Linked DNA regions of Homo sapiens. The protein of the gene in region 2 purifies or fractionates together with the protein of the main gene of each other region. This does not show direct contact. Each region holds a gene or a part of one and is shown on either strand. Other genes may lie near its edges. The genes, in order: IARS1 and FARSB.

Evidence for each region.
Region 1: the proteins of FARSB (region 2) and IARS1 fractionate together in Homo sapiens (co-fractionation; 2 studies listed by BioGRID). This does not show direct contact.

Annotation. Positions count from the first base shown.
Region 1 is NC_000009.12:92,241,661-92,248,966, forward strand, and holds part of IARS1 (isoleucine--tRNA ligase, cytoplasmic), read right to left. Parts: intron 5,892-7,306; coding exon 5,717-5,891; intron 3,412-5,716; coding exon 3,299-3,411; intron 1,652-3,298; coding exon 1,556-1,651; intron 671-1,555; coding exon 494-670; intron 1-493. UniProt on the Homo sapiens protein: Catalyzes the specific attachment of an amino acid to its cognate tRNA in a 2 step reaction: the amino acid (AA) is first activated by ATP to form AA-AMP and then transferred to the acceptor end of the tRNA.
Region 2 is NC_000002.12:222,566,197-222,569,196, forward strand, and holds the end of FARSB (phenylalanine--tRNA ligase beta subunit), read right to left. Parts: 3' UTR 703-3,000; downstream 1-702.

The DNA.
Region 1 (7,306 bases), on a different chromosome or scaffold from region 2:
TTATAAGCCAATATCTTCCCTACCTTAATATCATACTTTCATAAGTATATCTAAAATTCCTAGATGTAACAACAGAAATGCTATTGTAATCTTTCTTTTTTTGTACTGTACTTTTATGGAGAACCCACTACCAGAAGAGTTAAATGTTTTTCAAGCCAATTGCTATTTACTTTTAATGATAATTACCAGAATCCACACACTGCCTTTTCTAGTTTTAGAAAAAACAGGCCATTTTATTTCCGGGCAAAGCTCATGTACCCTCCTGGCTACCTTCCTCAAGAGAACTGTTGTGAAAACAGTTCCATCTTCCCTCCCTGCTCCATCTTTTCTGAGCTTCCACTCTCTGACTCTACCCACTACTGTCCAGAGCAATACTTCAAGACAGAGTGCTGTGCCGATCTCTACTGTGGGACAGAATATCAACACGTGAGTACACAAAGTCAAACCTAATCTGAAACCCTTTAGTAGTAGTTCAGTGGAACTCAGGACTCACCTGTGTTTTTTCTTGAATAAGGACTTTATCCGATGGAGAAACTGGATATGGTTTCAAGGGAGCCTTTATGGTGGTAAATATGAACTCTGTGTGGCTTTCAATAACACTATTCAGATATGTTCCTTCAGACTTTGCTTTATAGTACACTGTGATTTCATCAGTTGGAACCAGATTGCACTGAAAACACACACAGAAAAATTTAAAAGGGAAGTACATTCTATTAATCAGAACTGAAGGAAGGTACTGTTGAACAAGGGCTACAGATCCCATGCTGAATCATCACAGAAGGGCAGTCACCCTTCCCTCCCTGCTGGGTGATCCGTAAGACTAACTGCACTCAGTACATGATTAACTTTGTGTCTTTTTCACCACTCTTTGGGGGATAGGGCATGTTTCTTTTCCTAGAACAATCAGTACCTCATGAATGTTGAAACCAAGAAATTACTTAGAACCCACTTACAAAGCTCTGAACTGATTCAGAGGTCACAAGCACCCACTCATCTGCTGGAACAGCCTCCTCAGACCTTGAACCGTCTGGGAAGAAAGATGTATGTTAGCTGTCACTGCCCTCTACAGGGCAAGAAATTCCTGATTCTCTCACTAGCAGGGGCTTTGCAGCCCCTCTGCGCTCCAGGATGAGCTCCCTGCATATTCCTCAGCTCTCTAATAAGGAAAAACTACCCAACTCTGTCCAAATCCGGGAATCTCCCCTAAGCTAGAAGCCTGTCTATGCTGACTGCACCTCTGCCCTTCTGCAAAGACACTATCAGCTCTGATTACCTTCTGCTCCAGTCACAGGGGATATTCTGTAGAAGCCCAACGGAGCTAAAAAAAAGGATGGGAAAAGGCACAGGCTGGCTGAAAGCTACGACTTGGGAGTGAACACGTGGGGAGAGGAAGAGGAGTGACTTTTCTGCAGAATACATTCCAAATGGACTATGGATTAGTGATTGTTATGCATTGATCACTATGGTTTATATTACCTGCCTCTCCTATCTTCTCCAAACAACCAAAACAAACAAAAAGCCAAAACAGTAGCTTATTCTTAACTGACAAACTAACCTTTTTGCGAAGTTTCTGTATGCGATTGATGACTTCCCGAGCCATTCCTTCATCTACCATTGACTGGTCAGGAGTGACATCTAAGAGGACCAAAGCCTGTGGGAATGAACAGTGCACACCATGACAATCAAATAAGGAGAAACACTTCTTCCCAACTCAGCAAAATGTTATTTAAATCTGGAGAGTCTATAATGCAGCACTATTTTTTCACACAAATGAGCAAAAGCAATAAAATTAATCTAGTTTATCATTCAGGTACTTCTTCATAATCAGCTAGTCCTCTGTCTCTGGAGAAAGGTGTGCAGGTTTTTGTTTCTTGTTTTTTTGTAGGGTGCTGCTCACAGGAGATGCCCTGGGACCACCTCTTATCAGAGTCCCTCACATGACTCTGCTTTTTGGCCATCTAAGAAGTAATATCAACTCTTCTAATAAGTAAGATCAATAATCATGAAGCCCTTGGAGCAGCACAGCTTTTCAGGCCACAACAAGTGGATCAACGGCCTCAGCGCAGTCAACTCCAAGTGACTTTCCTATACCATGACCCCTGTGATCTTCAGGTTTGTCAGAACGACTCAAGACAAATTCTACAATGGACCACAAAACTTTCTGTGACTTAAACTGCCATATTTTTGCTAAGGTTAATGTTTCTATCTCATCTATTCTGAAGGTTGCTGATTATGATGTAGCAATAATGACACTATCGCTTCTGTTACACAGCATGTTGCAGAGTAAAATATACTCTACAAAAGACTTGTACATTAGGCATCATCTCATTTACCTTTGAGTAAACAGAGAAGTTAAGAAATGACTCACTTCATAAAGGCATCAGAGGTAGTGAAATGCATGATAAACTCAAAATTCCAGTCAGTGCAGGGCCACTACAACATGTAAGCCATGTCAAGAAACTCAGAAGCATCACATGACACTTTTGTAAGGTGGACAACTTTTCAGGCCCCTAACATCTGCTGTAATGAGGAAGAACTGCCCACTGTCAGTGTTTAGAAACCTCCTCCCTGCCTTCTTTCCCAGCTACGATACCTCCGACTCCTTGCCACTGTCTTCCCACGTAGAGTTCTGTACACATCTAACTTAAGCGCCTGGGTAAAGGACTGAGGAGGTCGACCTTCCTTTCATGGAGGTGCTGCTCTACCTTCCCCTGCACATGGTATGCTAAGCACAGAGGGACCCCTGCAATATCCCCAAACCCACATGCGAGATCTTACAACTATGCTGACTGGGGATGTCTGGTCAGGACTGCAAAGAGATAGTCTCTTCTCCAATATGGCAAAAAATATTGATCCTGGAATCTAAAACAGTTTGTATATTCTCTTGAAAAGAGTGTTCCCTGACCACTTTTCACCCTACACCTATTTTTGGATAGGAGCCCTCTGTGTACTTATTTCTACCAGATAACTTATCAGGTAGAATACTAAGAACTGGCTTAATTTCAGGTGTCCTTGACTGACTCATTCCTTGAAGGGTTCATTTTTGTGCAACCCCACACTTGGGACAATGACTGACATGTAGAAATCACAAAATGCTTACTTATGTATTCACTAAACAAATGCATATGTTAAGGGCATAATAATATATTAGTTTAATAAAGCCAATCTAAACCAAGTAACTGGTTTATTTTACCCTGAGACAAGCTGTCAACATTATCAGGAAAGGCACAGGCAAATACTTTCTCCTCTTATGCTCTCATCTCTTGGTAAAGAAATGTTCTAGGAAACAGAAAAATACCTGAGCATCTGAGTGTGCTTCAAATTGCGCAGTCCCACCTGTGGCCTGATCAAAGGTGTACATGAGGCGGATGTCTTCATCGTGCAATTCATGGCCTTCCACAACAATGGTCCCTATGGAGAAGCAGCTACACTGTTAATCAGCTTCCCCTCCTCTTCAAGCTGCCCCACTACCCGTGTATTATGCCCCTTCTTGATTAAAATTTCACAATAACAAAGCCACAGAGGCTTCAAGAGATCATTTCCCTCTGACTCATGTCATGGTTGTAGCCAAGACATGACAAACTTTCTTTAGATTACACTATGCTACCTTGAAGACAGTTAAGTCATCACCAGTATCTACTGTTTTATATAAACTCTCAGGTCCAAAGACATGACAAAGCTAAGGGAAGGCACCAAGAGGCAACAAATGCTCACCATAAACACAGAGCAGCAGGATGTCATGAAGAAAATACAGTCTTTAAAGAGAAAGTGAACTTAGGTCCACTATTTGCTGGTTGTATGACATGGTGTTCTGCTACCTGCTGAGCAAGGTGTGGTGAGGCTAAAATGAGACGGGCAGTGTGTAGTACTGAGCATCATGCCTGTTCAGGGGAGGCAGAAATGTGAACAGCTGCTGATGTTAACACCCCCGCTGATAGGGAGGCCCACTGTTGTCACTGATGATGACCTTCTTGGGCTCTGAGCACCCGGGTGTCATTTTTATGTTTACTTTGTCTCTGTGTTCTGAAGATGATCTTGTTTTCCATCAGTGCAGAACAGTACGCTCAGAAACTAGGCTTTCAATTTCAAATAAGGTTTAGCCCAGGAATTTTTTTTTTTTTTTTGAGACAGAGTCTTGCTTTGTCACCCAGGCTGCAGTGCAGTGGCAGGATCTCGGCTCACTGCAAGCTCTGCCTCCTGGGTTCACGCCATTCCCCGGCCTCAGTCTCCTGAGTAGCTGGAACTACAGGCGCCTGCCACCACACCTGGCTAATTTTGTGTGTGTGTGTGTGTTTTTAGCAGAGACGGGGTTTCACCGTGTTAGCCAGGACAGTCTCAATCTCCTGATTTCGTGATCTGCCCGCCTCGGCCTCCCAAAGTGCTGGGATTACAGGCATGAGTCACCACCCCCAGCCATCTCAGGAATTTTTGATGCTTTGGCTATCTGGCGAACAATTTAGATTTGTGGCTTGAAGGCTCGTAACACTTTGTTATTTTAATATTTTGAGTTGATTAGTAATTAGTAATAACTTGAGGTTTAGCTGCTGATGTCTTATGTTTTATTAATTCTATCTAAATATTTGGAGAATCTTAGGGACAGTTCCCCCATCTGATTTATGAATCCTCAAATCTCTCTTCTCAAGACATCTCCTAGCTTATGATTTTCAACTTCAGAGGAAGCCGTAACAATAAACAGCTTGTGCCCCAGGATAGTTACAGGATGTCAGACAGCCACACTCAGACCATGTATGATTCTAATCATGGCAGAGCTGCAAATTTCTGGGCACCCTGAAATGCTCTGTATAGGGGTAGCAAGATGGGGCTGATTTCCCTTTCCTAATCCCATCATTTGGTTAGGTACCCCCACATGTTTTTATGTTACCCTACACCTTCCCTTTATAACACTTATCAAAACCATAATTATTTTCCCAAATCTTCAATGTCAGCAAGCACCATGAAAGTAAGGACAAAATCACCCTAGGCTCCAGGGATCCTCCCACCTCAGCCTCCAGAGTAACTGGGATGGCAGGCACATACCACCACATCTGGCTAAGTGTGGTAGTATGTGCCTGTAGTGATCTCAAGTGATCTATCCAACTGGGCCTCCCAAAATGCTGGGATTACAGATGTGAGCCGCTGGGATTACAGATGTGAGCCTCTGTGCCCAGCTATTTTCTTTCTAAACTGTAAGAATTATTTATAATAAACATTTTTATCAACAGGAAAAAAAGTTTTACTTAAGAAAAGGATGGACCGGTGCAGTGGCACACACCTGTAATCCCAGCAATTTGGGGGACCGAAGGCGGGTGGATCACCTGAGGTCAGGAGTTAGAGACCAGCCTGGCCAACATGGTGAAACCCTGTTTCTACCAAAAATACAAAAATTAGCCAGGCATGGTACTACGTGCCTGTAATCCCAGCTACTTGGGAGGCTGAGGCAGGAGAATCACTTGAACCTGGGAGGCAGAGGTTGCAGTGAGCCAAGATCGCGCCACTGTGCTCCAGGATGGATGACAGAGCGAGATTCTGTCAAGAAAAGAGAAGAGAGAAGAGAGAAAAGAGAAGAGAGTAAGGAAAGGAAAGGAAAGGACAGGACACGACGGGACACGACAGGACAGGAAAGGAAAGGATGTGATATTAAAAGTCAAACAGTAGCCTAAAAAGTATCCCTCAGACTCAGGACATAAATGGTGCCCTTGTCTGTGTAGACACCTACCAGTCTTCTGGAACTGCTCCAGCTCCTCACTGCTCAACTGCTTGATGGACGTCATCACTGCCTTAAAGGCTCCCTTCAGACGCTTCCCCAGGACCATGTGATCTGGTTCTGCCCTTAGCCGAATGCCATACTTGTTTTTATCTGTAGACAGTGTAACTTTTCGAACATTGAGTTCCTACAGTTAATGCACAAGAGGAAACAAAAATGAGAAATGAAAACATATGTTCACACAAAAATGTAGGTCCACAGCAGCATTATTCCTAACTGCCAGAAAGCAAGAACACTTCAAGTGTCCATCAACTGTGAATGGATAAACAAAATGCAGCATACACATGCAATAGAGTATTTGGCAATATGAAGGACTGAAGCACTCATATGTGCTACAACATAAATTAATGTGAAACATTATGCTAGGTGAAACACGCCAGACATAAAGATTACAAATTGTATGATTCCACTTATATGAAATGTCCAGAGAAGGCAAATCCAGAGATAGCAAATAGGTTCGTGGATGCCAGGAAATGGTCAGATATTGAGGGGAAAATGGTTTGTGAATGTTAATGAATACTGGCTTTCTTTCTGGGACGAGGAAAATGTTCTAAAACTATGGTGATAGTTGTACCATTCTATAAATATGCTTAAAAACCAGTGATTTGTATGGTAAGAAGAAAATGCTTGTTATGAAGATCTATCAAGACAGTTGAGCATAACAGAAAAAGGACTCCAGACCCAGAAATATAAACCTCATCCCTCAGAGGTAACCTTTGTGCAAGCAATTGCAGAGTACCACAAGGTTAACTATTAACTAAGCAGAAGATCAGTTAAACAGAACACTTCATGCTTCAGTCATGCTACTGAGGATTACTGATGCGGCAGGGATGGTGATGGCACAGTAGCGGATGGGAAAATGAGAACAGCTTGAAGCAAATAATACGGAATGTTTAGTTTTGCCATTATATTTAGCTACATTAATTAATCTCATTTTAAGTGAAGTAGTTAATTTCAAAATTTTTCAGCTGGGTGTGGTGGCGCAAACTTGTAATCTTAGCACTTCGGGAGATCGAGGTGGGAGGATCACTTGAGCTCAGGAGTTAGAGACCAGCCCGGGCAACATGGCAAAACCCCATCTCTACAAAAGCCTGTACTACTATGCCTAATCTCCGCCACTTGGGAGGCTGAGGTGGGAGGATTGCCCGAGCCCAGGAGATGGAGGCTGTAGTGAGCCAAGATCACATCACTGCACTCCAGCCTGGGTGACAGAGCGAGACCCTGTCACAAAAAAAAAAAAAAAAAAAAAAAAAATTTCTATTTTATGCATAGCCACAGGTACTAATGTCAGAATTTAAAATCTAACTTTTGGTTTCTAATATTTCTCTGCAACTTTCAAGCAACTGAAAACCAAATATAGAAATTAACATTTTCTATAATAATGATTTTAAATATCACCTGTGAAAAGAATAAACAATGAAATTTTAAAAAATATTTGTTTTCTATCATCACAAAGAAGATGAGGTAAAACATATGCGTTTTTAAAACATCATGGAATAAAGATGTTTTAAAATATCATGGAATAAAAATGTTTAGGAAGAC
Region 2 (3,000 bases):
CAGAAGAAAAAAAAACCTACAGGGTTTGGTCAGACATAATTCAATTAGACCCTTTGCTGGAGATACTTACTCAACCCACAGTCTAGCTACAATATTCACTCATCCTTTCTGCCTACTAGAAAGCCAAAGCAGAGAATACCTGAACATGAAGTAGACATCGCGGAGACTCAAACCGCTTTGCTTCTGCGTTGCCCTTCTTGCTGCCTGGCCCATTTGTCAAGCACAGTCATTTGACAGCTCTTCTTTTATCTAAGCAGGTCATGTTCCCTACATGGACTCTGGTCAGGGCAAAACACTAGGCACAGCACCTGTCAAGCGGAGGCCCGGACTGGGGTTTGTATTGAGGCATGGTGGAAATCTCTCTTTGATCTTCAGGATACTTCAGTGTCTTTTTATTAGTGGCTAATTAGGAAGGCTAAAATGATCTGTGTTTAGTGTGCACTGTGCATAATTGGCCCCCCTCACAGTGGCACCCATCAGGTTTCCATGTGACAGAGATGCTGCAGACTGGAAGCCTAGGAGGCTTCACTCCTATCTGCGCTCATGGATACAGGTAGATTAGGGAACTGCTACAGACTGTCCCAGAGGTGTACTGCTGCCTTGAATTTTATCATGCATGCCACTCTCTACTTTTTGAATGCAAGTTTTCAATAATGTGTTTTAGTTTGCTGGGACTGTCACAACAAAAGACTATAGGCTGGGTGGCTTCAATAAAAGAATTTTATTTCTCACAGTTCTGGAGGCTAGAATTTCAAGATCAAGGTGCCAGCAAAATAGGTTTCATTCTGATCCCTCTCCTAGCTTGCTGGTGGCCACCATGTTGCTGTGTGGTCATATCACCTCTTCTGTATGTGTGCGCCAGGTAGGCAGAGAAACAGAGCAAGCTCTCTGGTGTTTCTTCTTATCAGGCCACTGAGCCTTTCATGAGGGCCTCCCTCTCATGACCTCATCTAGCTCTAATCACCTGCCAAAGGCCTCATCTCCAAAGACCATCACACTGGAGGTCAGAGGGTCAACATGAATTTGTGGGGATACATTCAGTCCATAATAATATACATAAAGTTATTCAAGGCCCTAATAACATAATAAGCCAGAACTTGGATATCAGATGGGTCAAAGGCTTTCAATGCTTAGGAGGCATATTCTGCTTAAGGCAATGGTGTCCCTTGAAGGCTATCTGTTTGCTTTTGGATAAAATGGACAGAAGGGCCAAAGTAAATACTCAAGTATTAGGGTTAGTGATGTTATATAAAACACCAAGCACAAATAGATTAAGATTGAGAAGCAAGATTGTGAGTAATGTTCTCTCTTACCAAGCTGATGAGCCCATCATTGCTGAGAGCAGGGGCAGTGGTTAGGCTGGCTGGTTTGTAGTAGATTACTCCTGTTTAAAATGTGAGAACAGTCATTCAACATGTTTTAAATTCAAAACACATCCTTTGACCTAGCGACTTCTACATCTAAGATGTAAGGTACTGGAATAATATATAGTTCAAGTACAAACGTCACATCAAAGAAATATCTAATGAACTCTATGCATCTCTGAATGTGTCTGTCAAATGTGGATATTTATACAGTCTTGCACCCATTAGGACTGGTTTTCCTTGGGGTCCTAAGCCAGTGCTATTTAGCAGGATAGGGGGTTCATTGGAGCAGTGTTTATAATTGCAAACAGTTGGAAACAACTGAATGTCCACCAACAAGGGAATAATTGAACAATTACGGACATCTGTACAATAGAATATTACCTCATTTAAAAGAATGAGATAGGTCTATAGGCACTGACCTGAAAAAATGGGGCATATTAAGTGAAATGTCATGAGATATATGTAAAATAAAAAACAAAACTTGTTGCAAACCAGTAAGTAGAGCATGACCCCCAAAAATGTGAGCAGGTGTGTGTGGCTGACTGTACAAATCAAGGAAAATGTCCAAACTAAGGAACAATACAGGCTAAATTGTTAACAGCAGTTAGTTACTTCAGGGAATCAGGAGGAAGAAAGGTAGATTAACTCAGTAAGGCCACAGTTTGCAGAGTTTTTTTAAAGTATTGGACTTAACAATTTTTAACTTTTTGTCTCCCATTATTTTTATATTTTTAAAAAGTGTAGAAAGTCCCATTATTTACTTTCGCATAAATAAGTAAATAATGCAAATCAGTGAGTGGTCTGTGGACTCCAAGTCACTCTTTTATAGTGTCTCAAACTCATTTATTGGCTATGTGACTTCTGAGTAAGTTATTGATCTCTCTGAAACTCAACTGTTTTCACCCTACACATCAGGGAGAATTCCTACTCTCATACCGTTATTAAACCAAAAAAATTAAAATGTGAAAAAAGATCAATTCAAAAATAATTTAAAAACAGAAGAGCAGGCTGGGCGCCTGTAATCCCAGCACTTTGGGAGGCAGAGGTGGACAGATCGCCTGAGGTCAGAAGTTCGAGACCAGCCTAGCTAACGTGGTGAAACCCCGTCTCTACTAAAAATACAAAAATTATCCAGGCATGGTGGCACACACCTGTAGTCCCAGCTACTCGGGAAGCTGAGGCAGGAGAATTGCTTGAACCCAGGAGGTGGAGGTTGCAGTGAGCCAAGATTGTGCCATTGCACTCCAGCCTGGGTGACAGAGCGAGACTCCGTCTAAAAAAACAAAAAACAAACAAAACTAGAAGAGCACTGCAGGACTGTGAGGCTGTAGTGGTAGAATTTAAGTTTTTTCTAAGCTAGAACAAAAATCAATTCCATTTAATTTTCACTTTAATACTAGAGCTCCCAGTTTTTACTAAGAAGGTGTGCATCTTCTGTAATAAAGGCTTTTGGCAGTACTCACAGACTGCCCTGGCTCCAGTTCAAATGCTTCACCAGGGACAAGTGTAAGATGATCTGGCTGCAGAGCCTCGACTCATGAGCTGGATTCGCTTCTTCCAATGCAGCCGACACTGTTTTTCTGCCTACCATTTCCTGCTTCCGAGGGCAGAAACATCTACATGATGCATGGAG